2 linked regions of the Homo sapiens genome follow. The protein of the gene in region 2 purifies or fractionates together with the protein of the main gene of each other region. This does not show direct contact. Each region holds a gene or a part of one and is shown on either strand. Other genes may lie near its edges.

What was found. The genes of interacting proteins can lie anywhere in the genome.
Region 1: the proteins of SPINK2 (region 2) and PMPCA purify together in Homo sapiens (affinity purification with mass spectrometry; 2 studies listed by BioGRID and IntAct, with this or other methods). This does not show direct contact.

The regions. Positions count from the first base shown.
Region 1 is NC_000009.12:136,420,624-136,424,261, forward strand, and holds the end of PMPCA (mitochondrial-processing peptidase subunit alpha isoform 1 precursor), read left to right. Parts: intron 1-1,208; coding exon 1,209-1,353; coding exon of another isoform or gene 1,354-1,637; exon of another isoform or gene 1,638-2,461; intron 2,462-2,471; coding exon 2,472-2,641; 3' UTR 2,642-3,138; downstream 3,139-3,638. UniProt on the Homo sapiens protein: Substrate recognition and binding subunit of the essential mitochondrial processing protease (MPP), which cleaves the mitochondrial sequence off newly imported precursors proteins.
Region 2 is NC_000004.12:56,818,676-56,825,905, reverse strand, and holds the start of SPINK2 (serine protease inhibitor Kazal-type 2 isoform 1 precursor), read left to right. Parts: upstream 1-4,204; 5' UTR 4,205-4,243; coding exon 4,244-4,448; exon of another isoform or gene 4,449-4,586; intron 4,587-5,326; coding exon 5,327-5,370; intron 5,371-7,230. UniProt on the Homo sapiens protein: As a strong inhibitor of acrosin, it is required for normal spermiogenesis. It probably hinders premature activation of proacrosin and other proteases, thus preventing the cascade of events leading to spermiogenesis defects.

The DNA of each region.
Region 1 (3,638 bases), on a different chromosome or scaffold from region 2:
GAAAAAAAGCATTCAAGAAATAAAGTTGTGGTTAAATTAATACGCTTCAGTTCCACTAGTGCACTGCTAGAAAAACAGTCCTCCACTAACGTGAAGTCAACTTGAAATAAATATGAAGTATTTAGGTATTTGCCTAAAGTTGCAAAAAGACCTAAGAATTGTTTTACTTAAAAGAAATGGTATAGAGGCCAGGTCCGGTGGCTTATGCCTGTTTTCCCAGCACTTTGGGAGACCAAGGTGGGAGGATCACTTGAGCCCAGGAGTTCAAGACTGACCTGGGCAACATAGCAAGACCCTGTGTCTATTTAAGAAAAAAAAAAAAAAGTGTAGCATCTCTGCGGCCCATCAGTTTTTGGTGTTTGTTTTTCAGTATGCTGGCTCCTAGATCTGCATGTCCTTCTCACAGCACCCCTGCCTGTGCCCTGAGACAGTCTGAAGGCAGCCTAGGACCCGCACTGCCTCCCTCAGAACCTCCCAGGGACTTTGCTAAAACCAGCTGCCTGGGCCCTGCGCCGGAGGCGTCTGGGGAAGCCCCAGAACCTGTGTTTCATTTGTTTTCCCCGATTTTGCCGTGTGGCCACTTTGGGGCCCTGGCATTTGGGAGTTAACTATTTTACCTTCTCCCGCTGCATGTCACACAGACAATGAAGAACTCAAGGGAGGCACATTGCTCCTGTATTTCAAGTGTGGTAGAAGCCGGGTAACACGTAGCACAGCCCTTCCCTAAAAAACCTGAAGGGGAGACCAGCAGGGTTGCCTGTGACTTGGGCCTGGGTTCCCGTTTTTTTTTTTTTTTTTTTTTTTGAGACAGAGTCTTGCTCTGTCGCCCAGGCTGGAGTGCAGTGGTGCGATCTGGGCTCACTGCAAGCTCCGCCTCCCGGGTTCATGCCATTCTCCCGCCTCAGCTTCCTGAGCAGCTGGGACTACAGGCGCCCGCCACCACGCCCAGCTAATTTCTTTTTGTATTTTTAGTAGAGAAGGGGTTTCACTCTGTTAGCCAGGATGGTCTCAATCTCCTGACCTCGTGATCCGCCTGCCTCAGCCTCCCAAAGAGCTGGGATTACAGGCGGGAGCCACTGCGCCCGGCTGCCCTTCCCTTTCTTATGTTCAGCTTTGGGCACAGAGATGGCGTTTTGCCATTGCTCGAGTGGGGGGTGGAAGGTGGCACGGGGCGGGTGTGTGCTCACCTGACTGGACCCTGGCCCCAGGTGGAGCTGGAACGAGCCAAGACGCAGCTGACATCAATGCTCATGATGAACCTGGAATCCAGGCCTGTGATCTTCGAGGATGTGGGGAGGCAGGTGCTGGCCACTCGCTCCAGAAAGCTGCCGCACGAGCTGTGCACGCTCATCCGTGAGTACCGCAGGGGTAGTGAGGGGCTGCCGCAGGCCTCGGCCAGGCTCAGAGGAGGCCGTCTCGCCCTCCCGCAGGCCGTGGTGGGCCTGTGGTATGTCCATCACACCCAGAATCTGGGGCCTTCACCAGTTGTCCTCAGCAGGGGCGGCCAAGGGCAGGGTCGTGGGGTCGCAGACCTGGTCTCACTTCCCGGCCCCACCATGCACCTGCTGCCTCCTTGGCAGGTGACCCCACCCTCTGCACCCCTGGGAGGGGCTGTCACTACTGCCCAGAGTTGTTAAAGAGCACTCAAGTTAGTAGGCGAGAAGGGCTCAGTAGAGGACTGCTACATTGTACGTGGAGTAGCAGTGGCTCGGAATGCCGCTGTACCGTTGCTGGCTCTCGGGCAGGAGTCTCAGCCCCAGGTTTCCGGGGCCCCCATGAGTGACCTTAGGAGGTCTGAATTTCCTGAAACTGCCAAGTTGTATGTGCATCGGACTCTTCTGGGGGACAGGCTTAAAACCTGGCAAGGCTGCCTATTACGTTGGGGTGGCTCGGGCTTATGGTGTCACCTGTGGGCATCTCCTTTCCAGGCCTGGAGTCCCGGGCACTTGCCCTGTCCCGTGTGGGCCCTCGTCCTTCCCTCAGGAGCCCCCGCTTAAATCCTCAAGCGAGTGTCCAGCCTCTCTCGGGCCTCGTTTTCTGTAGAAAACAGACCCACCTGGACCCTATCACTCCTGTCCTGGGGTTCCTGGGTGCAGCCCTTTGGCCTTCTCTCACCCCACCCTTCTGTCCATGCGGCCCTCGGGGGCTGGGGGTTTTTTCTGCAGGCCGTCCTAAAGTGAGTTCATCAGACACGGAGCTCGCTCTTCTGTAAGTGTAACTCTTCTTGGGTGGCTTTGTCCTATATTTTTAAGTCATTGCCATGTCCCCATTTACTGAGAACTCAACGTCTGTCACTTGTGGACTCACCCTTGGCTACACCCAGTGGCTGCCTTTGGGCCCAGGTGCCCCCATCAGCAGCACAGCGTGAGTGAGTGGTACAGACCAGCCGCCCCCTCCGTGTGTTTACTGATGCAGCCTCAGCGTGGGGGCCGTGGCGCGCTCGTGTGACACGCGTTTGCCCTCTGCACTAGGCAACGTGAAGCCGGAAGATGTGAAGAGAGTCGCTTCTAAGATGCTCCGAGGGAAGCCGGCAGTGGCCGCCCTGGGTGACCTGACTGACCTGCCCACGTATGAGCACATCCAGACCGCCCTGTCGAGTAAGGACGGGCGCCTGCCCAGGACGTACCGGCTCTTCCGGTAGAACCGCTCCCCGGCCTGACAGACCCAGGGAGCTGCAGCTGGAGCCCGTTCCCGTGCGTGTTAGTTTGGACACGAATTTAGTCTAAAAAGCTGTCTGGTTGTATAAACGGTGCAAACAATGTCGCCACAGCACCCACGCGGTTTGCATTCTTTTGGAACTCAATGTGCCGATCAGTGGAGTCAGTATCGAGCCTGACCACCGCAAGCCAGGAAGCAGGTGAAGTGCCCAGCGCTGGAGTGCAGCGTGCCACGAGGAGGGCGGTCGGTGCTTCCCTCCTCGGGCTGTGGGCACATGGGGCCCCGCAGGTTCCTTGGAGGAGCCCTGAGCTGGGAGGCAGCAAAGGCTGACCTATCAAAGCCTCCCGGAGGCCACCGTGCTGGGTACCAGGACTCACCTCTGACAAGCAGGAGAAGGTAAGGGCCCGGTCAGCTCCAAGGAGCGCGCTCCACGCGCGTGCACACAGCTTCCCTGGTAATAAAGAGCTGGCATCTTTCTTAGCACGGTGTTTTCCTTCTCGCCTGGGGAGGGGCGGTTCTTAAGGGCTGTCTGAATTGGCAGCTTTTCTAACATGGAGGCCTTCCTCCCTGTCAGTCGTCCGGTTTGACCCCGTGTCTTGAAGCCTGTTCTCGTGCGACGTGCTGATGTCAGGGGTGTCGCAGCATGCATGGGGTGGGGTGACGGGGGGTAATGGTGACCGGCAGCGAAGCCTGCAGGTGCCTTAGAGGTGGGGAGCACCGCCAAGCCGAGGAACGGCCGCAGATGTGGGTGTTTCCAGAGATCCGAAAGGCCGCATGGCTTAGGGAATAGCGGCTACGGGGTAGCCTTTCATGTGGTGTAAAAACTTGTACAAGAGGCCGGGCGCGGTGGCTCACGCCTCTAATCCCAGCACGCTGGGAGGCCGAGGCGGGCGGATCACCTGAGGTCGGGAGTTTGAGACCAGCCGGACCAACATGGAGAAACCCCGTCTCTATCGAAAATACAAAATGAGCTGAGCGTG
Region 2 (7,230 bases):
CTGTATTAGTCCATTTTCATGCTGCTGATAAAGACATACATGAGACTGGGAAGAAAAAAGGGTTTAATTGGACTTACAGTTCCACATGGCTGGGGAGGCCTCACAATCATGGTGGGAGGTGAAAGGCCCTTCTTACATGGCAGGAGCAAGAGAAAAAATGAGGAGGAAGCAAAAATGGAAACTCCTGATAAACCCATCAGATCTCCTGGACTTATTCACTATCATGAGAATGGCATGGGAAAGACTGGCCCCCATGATTCAATTATCCCCCTGGGTCCCTCCCGCAACACTTGGGAAATCCGGGAGATAGAATTCAAGTTGAGATTTAAGTGGGGACACAGCCAAACCATATCACCTACCTCTACAAAAAATACAAGAATATTAGCTGGGTGTGGTGGCGGATGCTTGTATTCCTAGCTACTTGTGGGGCTGAGGTGGGAGGATCGCTTGAGCCCAGGAGGTTGAGGCTGCAGTGAGCTGAGATTGCGCCACTGTACTCCAGCCTGGGTGACACAGCAAGATCTTCTCTCAAAAAAAAAAAAAAAAAGAATACAGTTATGCCCATTCATTGAGTTATAGTCTATGTCTCCTTTTGCACTGCAATGGCAGAGTTTAGTTGTGACAAGAAGTCAATGGTATTTACTATCTGGCCCTTTACAGAAAATGTTTTTTGACCCTTGTTCTTGGCTCACAAATGCTGAGACAACATGTGAAAAGCACCATGATAGAAAATATTTCTAAGGTATAATTATCAACATTTTTTTTTTTTTTTTGAGACGGAGTCTCGCTCTGTCACCCAGGCTGAAATGCAGTGGTGTGATCATGGCTCACTGCAGCCTCCACCTCCCAGGCTCAGGTGATCCTCCCACCTCAGCCTCCTAAGTAGCTGGGACTACAGGTGCGCGCCACCACACCAGGCTAATTTTTGTATTTTTTTAGAGACAGGGTTTTGTCATGTTGCCCAGGTTGGTCTCCAACTCCTGGGCTCAAACAATCTGCCCGCCTCTGCCTCCCAAAGTGCTGGGATTACAGGCATGAGCCACCCTGCCAGTCAGTGTCAACTCTTTGAAACAAAATAACCTAAAGGCAGCTGTATCCACACACATAAATTTATAAAAAATCTATCTTGAGGGGTAAATGGCTTTTCTTTTGAAGCTGAAATTCCTACTCACACACCTCTGAGCATTGCCCCTGAGTCTGGGTCAGATTTGTGTTCCCAGAGCATCAAAGGTGTTTGTAAGCAAGTGCACATGTCATTTGGTAACAGACATCCAGCACAGTTGAGAAAAGCTTTATATATAAATTATATTTTATCAATCCTTGATAAGAATCTTCAGCAAAATGACCCATGACCATTTCATGACTGTTATTCAAAGAACTGAATGTGATGTGACTTAGAGAAGTACTAACACTCATTTCAAATTTACCCCTTGGCCTCAGACAGGATTCCAGCCAGAACTCAGCCATGTGTGGTGCCAAGTGGAGTTAAAAACTGCACAGTGTCTTCTTGTTCCAGCCTTTGAGGTTGCTAAGGTCAAGGGTGGGCATGGGAACATGCCAGTCATAAGATGATTCTCCATCAGCTCTACAACCCCCTTCTACACTCTGCTATGTGGTGCCAGGTCTCAGCAGACCTCATTTCTGCTTTTTCAGCTGGCTTCCAGAAGGTTATGCCCATAGGGTCTGTCAGGGGGACACCGGAAGGCAGGAGGAGGGAGAAGGGACTGGCTCCTGCCTGCTGGCTGTTTCTTTCAGCAGTGCCACAGCAATGACTCTTCATCACTCTGATAGAATCAGCTGGCTCCAGTCTCCAGCATTTTTTTTTTTTTTTTTGAGACAGAGTTTCACTCTGTTGCCCAGGCTGGAGTGCAGTGGTGTGCTTCGCTCACCACAACCTCCACCTCCTAGGTTCAAGAGATTCTCATGAACCTGGGATTACAGGAGTATGGCACCATGTCCAGCTAAGTTTTATATTTTTTAGTAGAGACAAGGTTTCACCATGTTGGCCAGGCTGGTCTCGAACTCCCGACCTCAAGTGACCCACCCACCTCAACCTCCCAAAGTGCTGGGATTACAGGTGTGAGCCACTGCACCTGGCTCCAGTCTTCAGCTTTTCCACACACTCTTAGAGCCACCTGCATATCCAAGCAACACCCCCTTCCCATGGGTCTGAGTCCCAGCTTTCCAGGACCTCTCCTCCAAATTTCTAGTTCTGAGAATCCCAACCTAATCCGTTTGTTCCCCTAGATCGAGGCATGATGCCTACTTCCTAAAGGCTTTATCTCTGTGTTACCTCGTTTTCCCTTTCTGCTTTTTTCAGTTATCCCTACTGGATTAGCCAATTCCTTATACTAAATTATCTCTGGTGAAATACCTAGTAAACCTTGTGTTTTCCAGACTGGACCCTTACTGATAAGGCAACATGTCACAGAATCATTTGACACACAGGCATAAGAAGCAGAAAAAAAAAAAAGTGGATCTGCTAATGCACTTTTTTTTTTTTTTGACAGAGTCTTACTCTGTCGCCCAGGCTGGAGTGCAGTGGCACCATCTCGGCTCACTGCAACCTCTGCCTCTTGGGTTTAAGCAATTCTCATGCCTCAGCCTCCCAGGTAGCTGGGACTACAGGTGCGCACCACCATGCACAGCTAATTTTTGTATTTTTAGTAGAGATGGGGTCTTGCCATGTTGGCCAGGCTGGTCTCAAACTCCTGGCCTCAAGTGATCTACTTGCCTCAGCCTCGCAAAGTGCTGGGATTACGGGCATGAACCACCGTGCCTGGCCAAATTTTTTTGACATGGTCTCATTTTGCCACTGAGGCTGGAGCGCAGTAGCTCAATCTCAGCTCAATGGCCACACCTGGCTAATTTTTGTACTTTTTTTAGAGACGGGGTTTTGCCCTGTTGCCCAGGCTCCTCTCAAACTCTTGAGCTCAAGTGATCCACCAGGCTCAGCCTCCCAAAGTGCTGGGATTAGAGGCGTGAGCCACCACGCCTGGCCTTAATGCACTAACTTGCTCAGCCTCTTTGGCAAAAATTATTTCTCACAGAAGTAATGAGTAGAACAGTAGTTACTAGAGGCTGGGAAGGATAGGGGGATAGGGAGAGGTTGGTTAAAGTATACAAAATTACAGCTAGGTAGAAAGGATAAGTGCTAGTGTTTCATAGCATTGTAGGGTGCCGACAATTAACAATAATATATTATAAAGGTCGAGCACGGTGGCTCAAGCCTGTAATCCCAGCACTTTGGGAGGCCAAGGTGGGCGGATTGCTTGAGCCCAGGAGTTTGAGAGTAGCCTGGGCAACATGGTGAGAACCCCTCTCTACAAAAAATGCAAAAATTAGCTTGGCATGGTGGCATATATCTGTGGTCCCAGCTACTTGGGAGGGAGGCTGAGGTGGGAGGATCACTGGAACCTGGGAGGTGGAGGTTGCAGTGAGCTGAGATCGTGCCACTGCACTCCAGCCTGGGTAAAAGAGCGAGACCCTGTCTGAAATTTAAATAATAATAATAATTTATTATGTATTTTCAAGTAGCTAGATGAGAGGATTTTGAATGTTCTCAACACAAAGTAATGATAAATGTTTGAGGTGATGAATATGCTAATTATCCTATTTTGATCACTACACATTGTATGTATCCAAATATCACTATGTACCCCCATAAATATGTACAATCATTATGTGTCAACTCAAATAGTTAAAAAATATATTAAAAGAGGGAAAGGCAGAACGCTTCCTGAGAGCAAGGACCTCCTTTGTCGAGGTCAGGGCTGTGTCTTCAGCAACGAAACACTATCTGGGACTTAGTACATGCTTAAGAAATAGGTGTTGATTGACAGAGCTCCCAAGAGCTCCACAAGGGTCCCCCTAGGACTGTCACAGGTTCTTGTATGTCGGAGGGAGAGGTCTTCCCCTTCGTCTCCTTGGGGGGAGGGGAAGGTGTTGGGGAACAACTGCCCCTTCCTCTATCTCCCTCGCCCCTCCTTCCCCATGGCCCCCTCCCCCGTCCTTCTACCTTTCTCCTTCCCAGCCCTTTCCGGTTCTCCCCCGACCCTTCACGGCTCCTCTTCCCGCCGCTCCTCTTCCCGCCGCCCCTCTTCCCTCGCCACCTACCGCTGCTTTTCCTCCCATTCTCGCCCCGCCCCTTCCCCCGCCCTCCCCGCGCCCCGTCGCACGAGCGCTCCCTGCGAGTGGCGCAGGTAACAGACCGCAGGGGCAAGACAGCCGGCGCGGGAGGAGGATGGCGCTGTCGGTGCTGCGCTTGGCGCTGCTGCTCCTGGCAGTTACCTTCGCAGGTAGCGCTCGGAGCGGTCCTGGCGAGCGGGGACCTCCGGAGAAAAGCGGGTTTGGGAGTCAGACCGGCGGCGGACCCTGCCCTGCTCCGGGCGGCCTCGGCGACGGTACCCGCGCGCCCGTTACTGGCGGTTCCCCAGAGGACCTGCCAGGTGGAGGAACGCGAACTGGGGGTTGTGGGGGTGGCTTTGTGGAGTCAGCCACCCTCTTTAGTTCTTGCTTGGGCTTCGCTCCCAGCTCTAAGGACACCTGCCATCTAGAGCGCTTTCTCTGTTAAAGTAGATTTTCAGGTGCCCAAGATGAGGAGTTGAGTTTTTATGTATGGTCCCAAGGGAGGAGATGTGCAGGAATGAGGAATTGTGGATGCTTACGAGAAAGGGGCTTTAGTCCAACCACACTGGACACCTCTCTTAAAATGGAGTTAAAATGCTCACATCTTATATTAAATTTTGTATTTGTTACCCCGAGTTGTAAAGGAAAATAACATCATGAACTATTAATTAAGGGTTACTTCCTTGGCCAGGTGTAGTGGCTTGGGCCGGTAGTCCCAGTTACTCCGGAGGTTGAGGCGGGAGGCTCGCTTGAGACCAGGAATTGAAGCTGCAGTGCGCTAGCGCGACTTTTATTCCATAGCTTCAAAGTCCTTTCTCAACCAACCCTAATGGGAACAGAACCAAATGTTATTTCTATGTGCTTTTGGGGAGAGGTGCCATAAAAAACTGAATATCCTTTCTGGGGGAAGTGGGATGGGGACAGTTTAAAGAAGGTAGGCATTAGAGGGGAAAATAGAAGATGTGGCCTGGATAAATCCCAAACTGGATTTTAAAACATCCTTATGAAGCTGGATGTGGTGGCTAATGCCTCAAATTCCAGCACTTTGGGAGGCCTAGGCAGGAAGATCGCTTAAGCCCGGGAGGTCAAGACCAGCCTGGGCAACATAGCAAGACTTCATTTAAAAAAAAAAAAAACTTCATGAACAATACCTTACCTTGATCCTATACTGTAAAATGTCTATGCTTTCTTCTTACAGCCTCTCTGATCCCTCAATTTGGTCTGTTTTCAAAATATAGAACGGTAAGTAGCAAACCACTTCTACTGTTTCTACTAATACAGTGAAGCCCAAAACCGTTTGGGAGGGAGGCTGGCTTTCAGGTCTGACCTGCCACTTTTGAAACCATTGAGGACTGCGTTTAAAACCAGGTTGTCAGGCAGGCCTTTTGATTCAGATAAAAGTGTAAGTTTTAGTTGAAAACAGCTCAGTCTTTGTGTTAATATTTCCTTTAAAGATTCAAAAGGTCCTTAGAAAAAGTTATGCCTTGTACTAGATATTTTATGTACTTTATCAAATTAAATTCTGAGGATGTAAATGGAGACCAACCAAATGAGAACAAGCAAAGGCTATGTTTTTCAGGGCTTGTTATAGCAAGAGAGTCAGCCACTGTCACTTGCATTTGAGTAGGGACTCGAGTCAAAGAGAGGAGTGGGAAAACTATAGTGGAAAAAAGGAATGGCTTCAGGTATGGCCTGATTGGAGGCTGTTGGCACAGGGAAGCTGTAGGTGAGCTAACTAGAAGCACAACATTCTATGGTATGGGTTAGGGGTGTGTATTTGGTTTTCTCTGGTTGTCCTAAGTTGGAATCAAGGACAGAAATTACGGAAGCTGTCAGTTAGTAATCAAATCCTAACCATTTTGCAGCTGGGCGCAGTGACTCACGCCTGTAATCCCAGTGCTTTGGGAGGCCGAGGTGGGCAGATCACGAGGTCAGGAAATCAAGACCATGCTGGCTAACATGGTGAAACCCCGTCTGTACTAAAAATACAAAAAATTAGCCAGGCATCATGGCACGTGCCTGTAATCCCACCTACTGGGAAGGCTGAGGCAGGAGAATCACTTGAACCTGGGAGGCAAAGGTTGCAGTGAGCTGAGTTCATGCCACTGCACTCCAGCCCAGACAACAGAGTGAGACTTCATCTCAAAAAAAAAAAAAAAGAAAGAAAAAAAAGTCCTAGCCATTTTGGGCTGATTGTTAAAGGGGTTATTGTTTTGCTTCCTGGACTGTCACTAGAGATAGCAGTCTGATTTCCTTCAAGTCTGGCTTATAGCCGGCTGGCCTCCTGGCCTGGTTATTCTAAATAATGGTTTGGGTTCCTGGACAGGATGCTGCAGGTTGTGGGTCAGAGTTCTGTTTTATATAAGGACTAGTCATTGTCTGTATATTTGGTCTCTCAATTCTCACAATGATGTTGTAAGATAGACATTATTTGACATATGAGGATATTGACTTCAGCAGGTTAACTTTGAGCATTCAGCTCAGAGTAGGCTTCTTCCAGGAAGCCTTCCCACGCGATTCCCTTCCTCTAGAGATGTAGATATGTATACACACACACTTTCTCTGTGCTTACCTATACTGCATCATCATCACCATCATAATAATAAATACTTAGATACCTACATGCCACACCAGTGTTCTAAATGCTTCATATATAATAACTAATTTCATCTTTCACAGTACTGTGAGGTAGGGATCATTATTTCATTATTATCCCCTTGGCCAAGGTCACATGGAAGTGGTGGAGCTATGCTTCTCATCCAGGCAGTCTGACTCCAGATCCAGTGCTTTTCTCTACCCTGTCACAACATTAGGTTGTAATTGCCTGTTTGCCTACGTCCTCCAGGAAACTGTATGCATGTTGTCAGGTATAATGTCTTATTTGCTATTTGTTGCTCAGTCTTCAGCATCTCACAGATGCCCAATAACACTTTTAGTCAGTGATTCAGTTTGCTTGGGTTTGATTTTCTTTTAGAAAATGGGAGTTATGGTACCTTCGTTTCAAGGCTGGGATTAGGGTAAAGTGAGTGAGTTCCTACATGTAGAATTTAAGAAGGCACTCACGCTCAGGAGGCAAGGCAAGTGCTGCAGGACCTGCTGTCT